Regions from separate parts of the Homo sapiens genome. Here region 1 is linked to region 2. The links come from fine-mapping of genetic effects on gene expression. Tissue or cell type: whole blood. Region 2 holds a variant in brackets; the other region holds the start of a gene. All regions are shown on one strand. Distances are between the middles of the regions.

Region 1 (8,274 bases), 37 kb after region 2:
GTCAACATGGTGAAACCCCATCTCTATTAAAAATACAAAAATTAGCTGGGCATGGTGGTGCATGCCTGTAATCCTAGCTACTCGGGAGGCTGAGGTGGGAGAATTGCTTGAACTCGAAAGGCGGAGGTTGAAGTGAGCTGAGATCGCACCACTGCACTCCAGCCTGGGTGACAGGGCGAGACTCCATCTCAAAAAAAGAAAAAAAGAAATAAAATAAAACAAAATAAACAAATAAGTTTAAACAGTACCGTACTGGATAGCATAGACATAGAGGACCACTCAAGAGTTATCAGGAAGTCAGGGTCCCTACGCTTTGAAGACTCCAGGTATAACATACATGTGTTACCTAGAAGCCTTCTCTCCTCCCACAGGAGTCCATTATCAAGGTCACCTTCACGGATGAGGCCCTTAATGCTAGGCAGTAACAGGCTTGGGGTAGGAAAATGGGACAGAAAAACACAGAAGTAGTGAGATGTGGCTAGGCAGGAAGAGTGCTAGCGGATGGGGCCCCTGACACTAAGGAAGCGGTGGGAAAGGCGTGAGGCTTTGAAGACCCTCTCCAAGGGGCCCAAGGCTTCAGAAAAAAAAAAAAAAAAAAAAAGCGATTTTTGCCCACACAATGGGAATCACAGAATAAAGTTTCTAGAAAAGACCTCCACAATTATTGTTGAGATATAAGACTTTTGCCTAAAGATATAAGACTATTATCTGACATGGTCGAAAGTCTTTGAAAGAGAAGGTGAAACGGAATGATTAAGAATAGAGAACTCACTGGGCATGGTGGCTTACATCTGTAATCCCAGCATTTTGGGAGGCTGAGGCAGGCGGATCACCTGAGGTCAGGAGTTCGAGACCAGCCTGACCAACATGGTGAAACCTCGTCTCAAGTAAAAATACAAAAATTAGCCAGGCGTGGTGATGGGTGCCTGTAATCCCAGCTACTTGGGAGGCTGAGGCAGGAGAATGCCTTGAACCCAGGAGGTGGAGTTTGCAGTGGACCATGATTTCACCACTGTACTCCAGCCTGGGCAACTGAGTGAGACTCTGTTTCAAAAAAAAAAAAAAGAATAGAGATCTCAAAAATTAAAAAATTAAAAGATACTTCCTGTTGACCAGGTCTAAAAATAAATAAAAAATAAAAAAAGAATAAAGCTCGCAGTAACATACTTTCCAGGTTCTTAAGTGTTCACAAGGATCATGGAGAGCCCCTCATAGAACCAGAAAGCACCCTATAAATTATAGGGGCTCCAAGGAACAGGCACTCTACTTACCGACAATCGTGAAGCTGAAGTCACGACTGTATTTTGAACAGCTGGTAACTTGGGCTTTGCATTTGTAGGGGCCTGATTCATGGGCTTCTGTGATGCTTAGGTTAAAAATCGCAGGTTCACCTTTTCCATCCTGGGTTCCCAGGTGTGTCTTACGTCGAAACAATGAATAGGTGATCTGCAGTGATTTGTTCTTATGGGAACAAAACATAGATACATTTTGACCCTTCATAACCACCTTAGTCTTTGAGTCCAAACATGGAGAAGGGAATTCTGAAAAACAAAATGACACAAGAAAAAGTCCTTCTTAAGATCCTGGCCGGGCAAGGTGGTTCACGCCTGTAATCCCAGCACTTTGGGCGGCCGAGGCAGGTGGATCACTTGAGGCCATGAGTTTGATACCAGTCTGGGCAACATGGCAAAACCCTGTCTCTACTAAAAATACAAAAATTAGCTGGCATGGTGGTGGGCACCTGTAATCCCAGCTACTCAGGAGGCTGAGGCAGGAGAATTGCTTGAACTAGGGAGGCGGAGGTTGCAGTGAGCCAAGATCATGCCACTGCACTCCAGGCTGGGTGACAGAGTGAGACTACCTCAAAAAATAAAAATAATAATAAATAAAAAGTTCTTGAAGTTGGGTGTGGTGGTTGACGCCTATAATCCTAGCACTTTGGGAGGCTGTGGTGGGAGGGTCACTTGAGGTCAGGAGTTCGAGAACAGCCTGGGCAACAAGTGAGACCTCGTCTCTAATTTTTAAAAAACAAAACAGAACAAAAAAAAAAAAAAACATAGCTGGGACCAATGGATGGCTTGGGTGGAAGACAGATTTAGACTCTTCAAAAATGCTTTTAAAAATGCAGTAAACTCTCCTCCCACTCTTTGATCTGGACAATTAACATTTTCTCAGTCTTATATAAGCTCAACTTTTTTTTTTTTTTGAGACAGAGTCTCACTCTGTTGCCCAGGCTGGAGCGCAGTGGCACCATCTTGACTCACCACAGCCTCCACCTTCCAGGCTCAACTGATCCTCCTGCCTCAGCCTCCTGAGTAGCTGAACTATAGGCACACACCACCATGCCCAGCTAATTTTTGTAGTTTTGGTAGAGACAGGGTTTCACCATGTTGTCCAGGCTCGTCTTGAACTCCTGACCTCAAGTGACTGCCTGCTTCAGCCTCCCAAAGTGCCGGGATTACAGGTGTGAGTCACTGTGCCCCGCCATATAAACTCAACTTTAAGACAAGACCTAAACTACCTTTCCAACCAAATAGCCATCCCTAAGTTTTTTTTATCTAGGAATGCTAGAGCTTTTGTGGCCAGTAAACATGAAAAAGATGCTCAACTTCACAAGTAATGAGGCAACTGCAAATTAAAACAACACTGAGATATCATTTTTCACTCATCAGATTGGTACAAAGTTTAAAAATGATTGGCCAGGCATGGTGGCTCATGCCTGTAATCCCAGCAATTTGGGAGGCTGAGGCAGGCAGATCTCTTGAGTCCAGGAGTTCGAGACCAGCCTGGGCAAATGGTGAAACCCTGTCTCTACTAAAAATACAAAAATTAGCTGGGCATGATGGTGCGTACCTGTATGGCACTACTCAGGAGGCTGAGGTGGGAGGATCAATTGAGCTTGGAAGGTCGAGGCTGCGGAAAGCTAAGATCGCACCACTGCACTCCAGCCTGGGCGACAGAGCAGAGACTCTGTCTCAAAGAAAGAAAGAAAAAAAAAAACCCTAAATAAAATTTAAAAGTAAAAGTGATTATATCCACCACTGGGGAGTGGGTGGGGAAACTCACCCACCGTTGGTGACTGATAGGATACGATCAGCCTTGTTGGGAGGGCAACTTAGCAGGGTCTGTAACAATTTAAATGTGTATGCCCTATGACCTTGCAATTTCAATTCTAGAATTTCATTCTACAGAGATGCTTTCAAGCTCTCATGCATCCACAAAGGACGTTGTGTACAAGGATGTTTATTGTAGCATTGTTTATATTGCCCCCAAAAAGCAGGGCAATAAATAAGGATGGTTAAACGAATCATGGCTGAGTCTTAAAATACCATGCAGCTGTTGAAAAAGAGGAGCTAAGGCTGGTGTGGTAGCTCATGCCTGTAACCCCAGCACTTTGGGAGGCAGAGGCAGGAGGATCACGAGGTCAAGAGTTCAAGAACAGCCTGGCCAACATGATGACACCCCGTCTCTACCAAAAAACAATACAAAAATTACCCAGGCATGGTGGCACGTGCCTGTAATCCCAGCTACTCGGGAGGCTGAGGCAGGAGGATCCCTTGAACCCAGGAGGCGGAGGTTGCAGTGAGCCGAGATTGTGCCACTGTACTCCAGCCTGGGCAACAAGAGTGAAACTCTGTCTCAAAAACAAACAAACAAAAAAAGATAACGAATATAAAGTGACTGTTGATAACGGCTGCTTCTGGATAGGAAGGGGAGAAGAATTGGAGGAGGATTGTAACAGAACTTTTACATTTTATACAGTAACAACCACCACCTTGGCTATCACTTACGGATGGTTTACCATATGCCTGGCACTGTGACGAGGAGCAGGGATTGTCTCATTTGATCTGCACACTAGCCTACCAGGTAGGTGCTTTTATTAGCCCACTTCACAGATGAAATAAATTACAGTGTCTCACGCCTGTAATCCCAGCACTTTGGGAGGCCAAGGTGGGCGGATCACGAGGTCAGGAGATCGAGACCATCCTGGCTAACGATGTGAAACCCCGTCTCTACAAAAAATACAAAACATTAGCCAGGCTTGGTGGCACACGCCTGTAGTCCCAGCTACTCGGGAGGCTGAGGCAGGAGAATCACTTGAACCTGGGAGGCAGAGGTTGCAGTGAGCCGAGATTGCACCACTGACTCCAGCCTGGGCGACAGACTGAGACTCCATCTCAAAAAAAAAAAGAAAGAAAGAAAGAAAGAAAGAAATTAAGGTCAAACTGGGTATGTCATGAGCTCAGGCTGCTGGCTAGTAACTAGTAGAACCAGAGGTTAGACCACTTCCCAATGTATATTTCTAGTGTTGCTTGAATTATTTCACAATAATTCTGTGGGTTTTTTTATTTTGTTTTATTTTTTTAAGAAACGAGGTATCACTATGTTGTTCAGGCTGGTCTCAAACTCCTGAGCTCAAGCAATCCTACCCCATTAGCCTTCCAAAGTGCTGCGATTACAGGCCGGAGGCACCACACCCAGCCTGTGTGTTGGCTTTCTAGTTAAAACACAACAACCATAAAACAACAATAACAAGGAAAGTTAGAAAACTTTCATTGTGAAAACAAATTTCATTATTTTTCTCACTGAGTCTCAGAAAAAAATGCTGCAATCCCCTCCCTAAAATCATTTTATTTTAAATGATAGATAATTGAAAAGACTGTTCTTTGGTTGTTCATAAAAGCTCAGAAACACTTTTGAATGGACGCTTATGTTGCAATCAGACTGTCTCACCACTTCAGTGAAAATGGTTTCAATAAGAAAGAAGTAAATGAAACTTACCATTTGTTTTCATTGCCTCACAATCCAATACAGCTTTTCTACCTGAAACAGAAAAGGAACACGATAAAGCTCACTTTCCACATGACACGTTGGCTTGGAGGTTCGAGCCTCAGAATGATAAGGGGGGCTTACAAGTGACAGAAGAAAATATGCTCCAGAAGAGGAGCCTGTTCAAATGGCTCCACATTCTCCCAGTTGAAGTCCAAGACGGGGTCAGAAGGCATAGTAGAACCACAGTGGTGAGTAACTCGGAGAACTTCCTCTTTTTCTTAGCCAAGTTAAGGAAATCAGAGGGTTTGGATGAGGTTTGCATAATACTGGTTTGTTCGACCAATCTGTCTTCCTCTGTGAGTTCCTGTAAGAAGAGAGATATTTGGTAGATTGCCACTCCCCCGCCCCCCCCACCCCCCCACACCCCCACATCGTCCCATGCTGGCTGGGAAAGAGAAGAGGTAAATCTGACTGTTACATTGTCTATGTAAACCCATCTGATCTCCTTGCTCTGGACTCAGTCTATGCCAAAAGGAGTTTGGTGGAAGTTTGATTTAGTCTTTGGAAGCAAACCGACTGTCTTAAGCAGATACATACAAATATTGTATCAAAAATGCCTGCTTTTTTTTTTTGAGACTGGCCTCACTCTGTCACCCAGGTTGGAGTGGAGTGCTGTGATCATAGCTCATTGCAGCCTCAAACTCCTGGGCTCAAGTGCTCGTCCCACCTCAGGCTCCTGAGTAGCTGGGACCACAGGTGTGCACCATCAGGACTGGCTAATTATTTTTATTTGTAAAGACAGGGGTCTAGTTGCCCAGGCTGGTGTTAAACTCCTGAGCTCAAGTGATCCTCCCGCCTCAGCCTCCCAAAGTGCTGGGATTACAGGTGTGAGCTACTGTGCCTGGCCAAAAATGCCTGCTTTTGTTAAACGTTGATTCCTAGACCCCACTCCAGACTTACTGGGTTTCAAGTCCAGGACGCTGATTTTTTTTTTTTTAAACAAGGGCCCTGAGCAATTCTTACGCACAGTGAAGGCTGAGAAATATCTGTACAAGGTGCTGCTGCCTCAGTGATTTCTGAATCAAGGGAGCCTTGGGGACTTGATATTACGGCAAGCCCTCCAGTGCCAGGAGATCTGAAGTAGGAGTTACCTTAGATCAGCCTTTGAAATAGAACGTGCAGGCTGGGTGCGGTGGCTCATGCCTGTAATCCTAGCACTTCGGAAGGCTGAGGCAGGCGGATCACCCGAGGTCAGGAGTTTGACACCAGCCTGGCCAACACAGCGAAATCCCATCACTAGTAAAAATACAAAAAACTTAACTGGGTGTGGTGATGCGTGCCTATAATTCCAGCTACTTGAGGGGCTGAGGCAGAAGAATCGTTTGAACCCGGGAGGTGGAGGTTGCAGTGAGCCAAGATTGCACCACTGCACTCCAGCCTGGGTGATAGAGCAAAACTCTGTCTCAAAAAAAAAAAAAAAAAGTCAGTTGAAATAGAATGTGCAGAGCCACTTCTTGATGGAGTGGAGATCACCAAAAGGATAGAAAGGTATGACTATAGGGCTAGGTGGGCAAGACAGCTGGTTGACACTTGCAAGAATTGACAGGTCCACCAAGAGAGGAAGCAAGGAGTTGAATGGCTGGGGCAGCCTTGAGCTGGGACATTCATCTCTGTACCTTAGGTCCCAAGATGTAACCAAATCCTTCCTTATTGACTCAGCGTCACCTAGCTAGCATCCTCTAGCTAGGAGGTTTGATACTGAATCTTGCTCTGTCTCCCAAGCTAGAGCACAGTGGCACCATCTTGGCTCACTGCAATCTCCACTTACCAGAATCAAACTATCTTTCCACCTCAGCCTCTCTAGTAGCTGGGACCACAGGCACAAACCACCATACACTACTAGGTTTTTAACTTTTTTATAGAGATGAAGTCTCACTATATTGCCCAGGCTGGTTTTGAACTCCTGGGCTCAAGCGATTCTCCTGCGTGTGGCCTCCAAAAGTGCTAGGATTACAAGCATGAACCACCATGCCCCACCCTTACTACAACAACTTTACAGCACTTTATAAAAGTTTGGATGGGTGAACTGTCAGATACATGTGCAAAATTCCATCAACTTTTTCTTTTCTTCACGTCTGCAATGTTTTTCATCAGCATCCTGTCACTTTTTGGCTACCACTGCTGGCCAGCTGGAAAAGAACAGACAACCATAGAATCATTCCCCGCACCCACATTTTCTTTCTCTCTCTTTTTTTTTTTTTTTTTTTGAGATGGAGTCTCGCTCTGTTGCCCAGGCTGGAGTGCAGTGGCGCTATCTCGGCTCACTGAAACCTCCACCTCCTGGGTTCAAGGGATTCTCCTGCCTCACCCTCCCAAGTAACTGGGATTACAGGTACGTGCCACCACACCTGGCTAAATTGTGTATTTTTAGTAGAGACGGGATTTCACCCCATTGGCCAGGCTGGTCTCGAACTCCTGACCTCAGGTGATCTGCCTGCCTCGGCCTCCCGAAGTTGTGGGATTACAGGCGTGAGCCACTACCCCCGGCTCCACATTTTCATATAGACCCATGGAAATGGTTTCTCTATCAGATCCAGTACAAATTGCAGACAAGTCTGGCAATGGAAAAAATATATATTGGCAACTTCTAGTATTTTCAAACTGGAGTAATAGCTGCAGTGGCGCCATCTCGGGCCACTGCAACCTCCACAGTTCCCAGGTTCCCAAGTAGCTGGGATTACAGGCACTTGCCACCACGCCCAGCTAATTTTTTTAATTTTTACTAGAGATGAGGTTTCGCCATGTTGACCAGGCTGGTCTCAAATTCCTGATCTCAAGTGATCTACCCACCTCAGTCTCCCAAAGTGCTGAGACTACAGGCATGAGCCACTGCACCTGGCCTCACACATTCTATTTCAAAGGCTGATCTGAGTTTACTCCTACCTCAGTTCTCCTGGCACTGGAGGGCTTGCCATAATAACAAGACTTCAAGGCTGCCTTGATTCAGAACTGCACTTTTGAAAGACACTGTCTCAAAAAAAAAAAAAAAAGAATTTTTAATGGTGATGTAGAAGAACATTTCATGATGTGGTAAGAGAATCACAATATACTTAAGAAAAGAGAAAAGGTATTATTAACAGTTGTAATAACATAAATCATTTTTCTAAATAAGAAAGTGCATAATTTGTATACATAGAAAAACTATCTGGAGGCCGGGCACAGTGGCTCATGCCTGTATTCTCAGCACTTTGGGAGACTCATAATGAGACTTTGTCTCTAAATTAAAAAAGGAAAAGAAAGGAAAGGAAGAAAGAAAGAAAGAGAAAAACTATCTGGAAGGATATTTTCTCAAAATGTTAACAATAGCTATATCTGGAGAGTAGAATGTTATTTTTATTTTTTTTATTATTATACTTTAAGTTCTAGGGTACATGTGCACAATGTGCAGGTTTGATACATAGGTATACATGTGCCATGTTGGTTTGCTGCACCCATAAACTC
Region 2 (8,000 bases):
AGGCGTGAGCCACTGTGCCTGGCCAGTATTTTCACTTTTTAAAAATTAAATTTCAGCAACCTGTGGTCCCAGCTACTCTGAATCCTGAGGCAGGAGGATTGCTTGAGGCCAGCAGTAGGAGGCAGCAGTGAGCTATGATTGTACCTGTGACTAGCCACTGCACTCTAACCTGGGCAACAGAATGAGACACATCTCAAAAAAAAATGTAAATTAGAATAAACTTTAAAATTTGTATTCGGGACTTGACTAGTTTCGCACATTTGCTGAATAAAAAGTATCGGACAATTTAAATTCTTACAGATAATTATGGGAGTTAAATTAGTGTTTATTTAAATATGTTAAGACAAACTTAAATTTTCTTTTCCAGTTTGCCATGAGTCCATCTAACTTCAGCAGCAGTGACTGTCAGGATGAAGAAGGCCGGAAAGGAAACAAACTTTACTACAATTTTCCCTGGGGAAAGGAGTTAATAGAAACCCTGTGGAACCTAGGAGATCACGAACTTTTACACATGTATCCTGGCAATGTGTCTAAATTACATGTATGTTTTACCTGGAGCTCCTATGTATTTTTTACCCAGATTCTCTATAATCATTTCCGAACCATTTGAGAATAAGGTGCAAACGTGGTGTCTTAACACTTCATTGTGTATTTTTCAGATGCAGAGACACTCACCTACATAACTACAATCCAGTCATCAAAATCAGGAAATTAACAGTAATCCACTATTGCCACAGAGCCCTACAAATTGAACTGATTATCTCAATAATGGCATTTATAGGTCCAAGATCTTGTCTTTCATGTAGTTGTCATATGCCTTTACACTCCTTCAAATGAACAATTCCTCTTGTCTTGCGTGACCTTGACATTTTTGAAGAGTACAGTCTAGTTAATCTGTAGAATATGCCTTGGCTGGGATCTGTCTGCTGTTTCCACGTGATTTATGTATTTTTGTCGGGAGTACTACAGAAGTGGTAGTACTGAGAAGCTCTCTTCTCAGTGTGTCATATGAGGAGTGTTACTGGTGATGTTAACTTTTATCATTTAGTTAAGATGGTTTCTACTAGATTTCTCCAGTGTAAAGCTAATAAATAGTTTGTATTTATTAATTAACGGCCAGGCGCAGTGGCTCACGCCTGTAATCCCAGCACTTTGTGAGGCCGAAGTGGGAGGATCATGAGGTCAAGAGATTGAGACCATCCTGGCCAATGTGGTGAAACCCCATCTCTACTAAAAATACAAAAATTAGCTGGATGTGGTGGCTTGCCCTTATAGTCTCAGCTACTTGGGAGGCTGAGGCAGGAGAATCGCTTGAACCCGGGAGGTGGAGGTTGCGATGAGCCAAGATCGTGCCACTGCACTGCAGCCTGGCGACAGAACGAGACTCTGTCTCAAAAAAAAAAAACAAAAAAATTAACTAGTAATTAATAAGTGTTGTGGGCAGATACTTTAAGATGATGCAGACAATTTCTTTGTCACCAAATTTTGCCTTACTGGTTGCAGCATCCATTGATGATTCTTGCCCAGATCAGTTACTAATGTGAGGTTTGCCAAATGGTGATTTTTTTTTTTCTTTATTTGAGACAGGATCTCACTCTATCACTCAGGCTGAAACACAGTGGTATGGTGATAGCTCACTGCAACCTCAAACTCTTGAGCTCAAGCAATCCTGCCTCAGCCTCCCAAGTAGCTAGGACTACAAGCATGTATCACCATGCCCGACTGATGGTTTAATATTTGTAGAGACGGGGTCTAGCTTTGTTGCCCGGGCTGGTCTCGAACTCCTGGGATGAAACAATCCCCCTGCCTCAGCCTCCCAAAATGCTTGGATTATAAGAATGAGTCACCATGTTTGGCCATGTCACCAAATTTTGCCTTACTGGTTGCAGCATCCCTTGATGATTCTTGCTCAAATCAGTTACTACGATGAGGTTTGCCAATGGTGTTTTTTTCCCCTTCCCTTTTTTTTTTTTTTAAAAAAAAACAAATTCCATCATTCCTTCTAGATTTACTGGTCAGCAATATACTGTAGAGCTTTTCCTTCTCCTCCATTTTTTTTTTAAATTGGTATTTCACAGATTACTTTCTCAGGGGGTTACAGTGTGTTACTGTCATTATTTATTTTGATGGTCAAATTGTCCTAGACTTGGCCAGTGTCCTTTTGACATATTTCCATCATTGTCTTGACGAGCACTTCCTTACCTTTTGTAGCAATATATTGTTCCAGGATCATCAGTGAGCCAAGACTGTGCTGCTGCACTCCAGCCTGTGCAACAGGATGAGACCATGTCTCAAAAAAAAAAAAAAAGAAAAAGAAAAAATATATAGCAAAAACATAGGAGTTTATATATAATGAGTAGAAAGTAGATTAATTTTTATTTTTTTATTTTTTGAGACAGCATCTCACTCTGTTGCCCAGGCTGGAGTGCAGTGTCGCGATTCCCAGGTTCAAGCAGTTCTTCTGCCTCAGCCTCCTGAGTAGCTAGGACTATAGGTGTGCGCCACCACGCCCGGTTAATTTTTGTATTTTTAGTAGAGACAGGGTTTCACCATATTGACCAGGCTGGAATTTTTAAATATGAATAACTAATGAAAAACTAGAAGGCTTATTAACTGGTGAACATTTTCCTTTAACTCCACCACCATCACACTTCATTTTGGGGTACTCAGCTCTCAAATGAAACTTATTGGTTATTATCATAGTTAACGAACAGCTCAACCTTGTGACTAGGGATTTAAAGATGATTTTTGTATTGTGGCTATTAGTGTCTTATTTTGTTCTTTTTTTTCTTTTGTATGAAGAATGGGGTCTCGCTATGTTGCCCAGTCTGGTCTTGAATTCCTGGGCTCAAGCTGTTCTCCTGCCTCTGCCTTTCTGAGTGCTAAGATTACAGGTGTGAACTACCATGCCCAGATTATTTTGTTCTTTTATTGGTATCATTTTCACTAATGAAGAGTTTTCCTATTGCAGAAATTTTTCTCTTCCATGACATTGTTCCTTTTCTGTTTCCAGAGTTCACAAAATTATTTATCATTAGTTGAACATGTTATAAAATATTAAGTAGAATTTCTGTCATTTAGTATGCTTTCTTGAAATGTTTCTGAGGCCATTTCTTTCTTTTTTTAAAATTATTTAATAGAGATGGGGTCTCGCTGTGTTGCTCAGGCTGGTCTTGAACTCCTGGGCTCAAGCAATCCTCCTGCCTTAGCCTCCCAAAGTGCTGGGATTATAGGCGTAAACCACTGCACCCAGCCTCTTAGGCCATTTT[G/TG]TATCTGTTTTTAGTTGATTTTATGGTTAATGTCCAAATATATTTTTTAGAGAACAGTGAAGCAGACCAATAAAGGCTGAAGAACAGTTAGGATAGAAAAGAATTTATTCTGGATAGTGTGAGAAATCAGATATTGTTGGAAGAGTTGCCACCAGATATCCTGACATTGTTGGATATCCAATTTTCAAAAAATTAGAAAACAATAAACAATCTTTTTTGTTTGTTTTAAATAGGGATGGGATCTTGCCATGTTGCCCAGGCTAGTCTCAAACTCCTGGGCTCAAGTGATCCTCCTGCCCTGGCCTCCCAAAGTGCTAGGATTACAGGAGTGAGTCACTGTGCCCAGCCTAAAGCATTCTTCATAAAGATTCAGATTTAGATTTTGTTTGATTCAAAGCGCACCACAGAATCTTTCAGTACTTGAGTTTGTCTTTTTTTTTTTTTTTTTTTTTTTGAGATGGTGTCTCACTCTGTCACCCAGGCTGGAGTATAGTGGCACAATGTCTGCTCACTGCAGCCTCCACCTCCTGGGTTCAAGTGATTCTCATGCCTCAGCCTGCTGAGTAGCTGGGATTACAAGCATGCACCACCATGCCCAGCTAATTTTTGTCTTTTTAGTAGAGGTGGGGTTTTACCATGTTGGCCAGGCTGGTCTCGAACTCCTGAACTCAAGTGATTCGTCCACCATGGCCTCCCGATGTGCTGGGATTACAGGCATGAGCCACTGCTCCCAGCCCAGTTTATCTTATTAACTATCAGTTCGACGATAACTGTGTGAAATACAACTGGTAGAATAGAGTCCCAGGTATCAGAAAGTTTACTGCCTTTGAGGGCAAATTCTTGTGAATCTTTAAAGTATCATATGCAATTCAAATAGGTTTAAAATGTCAGTACATATATGTATTAATGAAGACTGTGGTTGATCATGAATAATTAACAGAAGCTGAGGATTTAAATTTGTGGGGTTTTCTCTCTTTTTTTTTTGTTCTGTGACTCTAGCTAAAGGTGGTTATTTAAGTATTTTTAAAAATTACATGAATATCCAGGTGAACAATGATTTACAAAAAAAGAAAGATGAAAGTGGAACTGTTTTTATCCAAAACTTAAGAAATTTCTAGGATTGAAATTTTTAAGAAGTTTGAAATGATTCCTCTTCAGTTTAGAGAAGAAGTAAGTCTGTTTATCAATACTTAATTCATATCATGTACTATGTGTAGTTTGTTTTCATAATTATGGCTTTAATGCAAAAAGTAAGTTTTTGAAAGATTTCTTTTTTATGAAAATAACTTTACGTTTCAGAAAATTATACTCCAAACCCCTTTCCCTAAAGCACACCATTTTTTTCCCTAAGGCCTCTTTTGAATAATCAGCAAACAATTTTTACTTAAAAGTGTTACCTTTCGAGGTAGGGCGCAGTGGCTCACGCCTGTAATCCCAGCACTTTGGGAGGCTGAGGTGGGCTGATCACCTGAGGTGAGGAGTTTGAGAACAACCTGGCCAACATGGTGAAACCCCGTCCCTACTAAAAATAGAAAAAAATTAGCCAGACATGGTGGTGTGTGCCTGTAGTCCTAGCTACTCAGGAGACTGAGGCAAGAGAATCACTTGAACCCGGGTGGCAGAGGTTGGCAATGAGGTGAGATCATGCCATTGCACTCCAGCCTGGGTGACAGAGCGAGACTCTGTCTGTATTAAAAAAAAAAAAAGTGTTACCTTTCTGAATACTAACTCTGAGCTCGGAAGCATTAAAGAAATAGTCTGTAGGGCTATTGAAAAAATTGATGCCTAAGTCCCTCTCCAGTTGAGTTCGTTCAGAATCTCTGGGATAGAGCCCAACCAAGCACCATAGTTTTAAAATTCACATTTGGGCCTCGCTGATGAAACACTGAGCTCAGTGAGAGCAGAGAATGCATCTTTATCGTCTTCGTGGGCCCAGTGCCTACCACAGGCCTGGTACAGAGTGGGTGCTTTGTAAAATGAAACTTTACTTTTGTATTCTGATTGTGTAAGTCTAAAATATGTACTCAGGAGGCTGAGGCAGGAGAATCACTTGAACCTGGGAGGCAGAGGTTGCAGGGAGCTGAGATCATGCCACTGCACTCCAGCCTGGCCAGGTGACAGAGTGAGACTCCGTCTCAAAAACAAACAAACAAAAAAAGTTCTGTGAAATGATTATTTTTCTTCTGTTTTTCTGTGAAGGGCCGAGATGGACGAAAAAATGTGGTTCCTTGTGTTCTCTCTGTAAATGGGGACCTAGACCGAGGCATGCTGGCCTACCTCTATGATTCTTTCCAGCTGACAGAGAACTCCTTTACAAGAAAGAAAAATCTTCATAGAAAGGTGCTGTTGATATTTCAGAGATAGACTTGGGAAACTAAAAATATGGGTTTGTTTGTTCTTAATGTTAGTGTGCTCGGTTTCTAACATAAACTCTAAATAATAAATTTAGTGCATGTAGTCTAAGTATTTTTCAGTTTTTTTAGAATCTGGCCACAGGAATAAGAATCAGGTTCTCACAGAATAGAACAAGGCATCCCTAATAAGTAATCCCAAAGGCATTTCTGTTTAATTGTGAACAGACAGCTATCTCTATGACTCCTAGCCCCTGAACCTTTCCACTGTGGGCTTCCATTTGTATCAGAAGCTGAAGCATTGGTACATAGGAGGAAGAAAGACCCGGATCAGGGAGACCTGTGCTATTGACCTCTCTGCCCCAGGTGTCTGGCTTCTGGTCTTGTGCCACATGGCTGGTTCCTGGATCAGAGGAGCTAGATGTGGGCCTGGAAAGGCTGATTTTAGTGCATGAACATGCACTTGGAGCATGTTTATGGGTCAAAGAAAATCGAGAGGAGAAGTTGAAGTTATAGGAGAGAAAAGAAATGATTAATGGGGCAAGATGAAGGAAACCGGAGGGGTCAGGATGGGATCAAGAGCCCAAGTAGAAGAATGTATCTTGAAAAGGAGATATTTGAAACAGCAGGGAAGAAGAAAAAGGATAGTGAGATATAAAAAGGCTACTGGGCTTTTTGGTCTTTGAAGGACATTTTACTGATGCCCTCTATTTTCTCAGGGAGTTAGGAGGCACTATTAGTTTAAATGTGGAAGAGTGGGGGTTTAAATGGCACGAGTGGGGAATAGTCATATACCCTTTGAACATAAAAGGAAGCTGCCCCAAATCAAAAGTTTTAACAAATAATGTTGAGTGTTCAGCTGGGATTGGGAACCATGAGTTTGTAGGAAACCACTCTTCTTAGTTAAGTGATTTATTATACAGTGTTCATTTAGCCTGCTATAACCATAGAGAAGTCTGATTATAGAATTATTCTGGGGAATGGGGTTTATAAATGGTTTGTAGCTAACAAAAAAAGGAATCCTTTCTTTTTCTTACACTCCACTTCCAAACCATCAGCAAATCCTGTTTGACTCTAACTTCAAAACGTATCCTGAGTCTGACCACTTCCTAGCCTGTCTACTGCTACCACCCTGCTATAAGCCACCGCCACTCCTCCTCCCCTGATAGAGTGGCCCTGTTAAAAGGTGCATGTTGTGTTGCTCCTTTGCTCAGAACACTCCAGGAAAGCTTCTCATCTCACTCAGGAAAAACCGAAGCCCTCTTTTTGATCTGCTGTTCTCCACCTCACTCAGTCTGCTCCAGCAGCACTGACCTTGCTATTTCTAGAACATGCTGGAGATGCTGCCAGCTCAGAGCCCTGTCATTTGTATTCCCCATTGCCTAGAGTGCTCTTTCTTCATCATCCATGTCTCGTCCCCCCACCTTCTTTCGAGTGTTTGCTCAAGTGTCACCATAGGGAGAGAACCTTTTCTGACCACCTTAAAGTTGCTGAAAACCTCCCCCAGCCTGCCTCTTGCCAGCATGTTCCATCTTCTTCCTTTTTTAGCACCTACCACCTTCACATATATTATTTACTTATTTTTATTGTCTGTTTCTCCCTGCCACGAGAGACGGAGATTTTTACCCCTAGCACCTGGAACTGTTCCTGGTATCAGAGGCATTAAAATGTTTGTTGGATGGACTAATGAATGAGAAGAGAAGGCTGGGCTGAATGGCTCACGCCTATAATCCCAGCACTTTGGGAAGCCAAGGTGGGTGGATCATTCAGGTCAGGAGTTCGAGACCAGTCTGTCTGGGCAACATGGCAAAACTTCATCTCTACAAAAAAATACTAAAACTAGCTGGGCGTGGTGGCGTGCACCTGTAGTCCCTGCTACTTAGGAGGCTGAAGTGGGAGGATGGCTTGAGCCCAGAGGTGGGGGTTGCAGTGAGGCAGTGAGTGGAGCATTCTAGCCTGGGCAACAGAGCCAGACCCTTTAAAAAAAAAAAAAAAGCAAATTTCATTTAAAAATTTTTTTCATTCAAAAAAATATATATAAAAAGAGAAGAACAGTAGGTTTTGACAAGAGAGAGAAAGTTGAAATGGTAAGCCACGTGGCCCAGGCTGGTAGGGTCCAAAGTGATGCTGAAAGAAGCATTTTGACTGAGGGAGTTGTCAGAAAATGGGAGGGTCTCAAGTTAATTTGTTTTTTTTTTTTTTTGAGACAGGATCTCACTCTGTCGCCCAGACTAGAGTGCAGTGGCACGATCTTGGCTCACTGCAGCCTTGACCTCCCGGGTCAAGCATTCTTCCCACCTCAGCCGCCTGAGTAGCTGGGACTACAGGTATGCGCCATACCTAGCTAATTTTTTTGTATTTTTTTGGTAGAGAGAAGTTT

The links. PIP is the estimated chance that this variant, and not a neighbour inherited with it, causes the effect.
Region 1: MILR1 starts here. The variant in region 2 is fine-mapped to the expression of MILR1 in whole blood (INTERVAL, PIP above 0.99).

Annotation. Positions count from the first base shown.
Region 1 is chr17:64,445,864-64,454,137 of GRCh38, reverse strand. It overlaps MILR1 (mast cell immunoglobulin like receptor 1), which reads right to left and starts at 5,023. Exons shown (of 10, transcript NM_001085423.2): 1 at 4,915-5,023; 2 at 4,783-4,824; 3 at 1,272-1,541. The coding sequence starts at 4,969. RefSeq lists a silencer at 5,111-5,160.
Region 2 is chr17:64,483,337-64,491,336 of GRCh38, reverse strand. It overlaps POLG2 (DNA polymerase gamma 2, accessory subunit), which reads left to right. Exons shown (of 8, transcript NM_007215.4): 4 at 368-541; 5 at 5,469-5,609. It also overlaps a transcript of MILR1 not described here. Among named protein-coding and RNA genes, the nearest start is that of POLG2, 9.7 kb to the left of the region's middle. RefSeq lists a silencer at 1,181-1,355. The variant G/TG (reference allele first, on the strand shown) is at 3,270.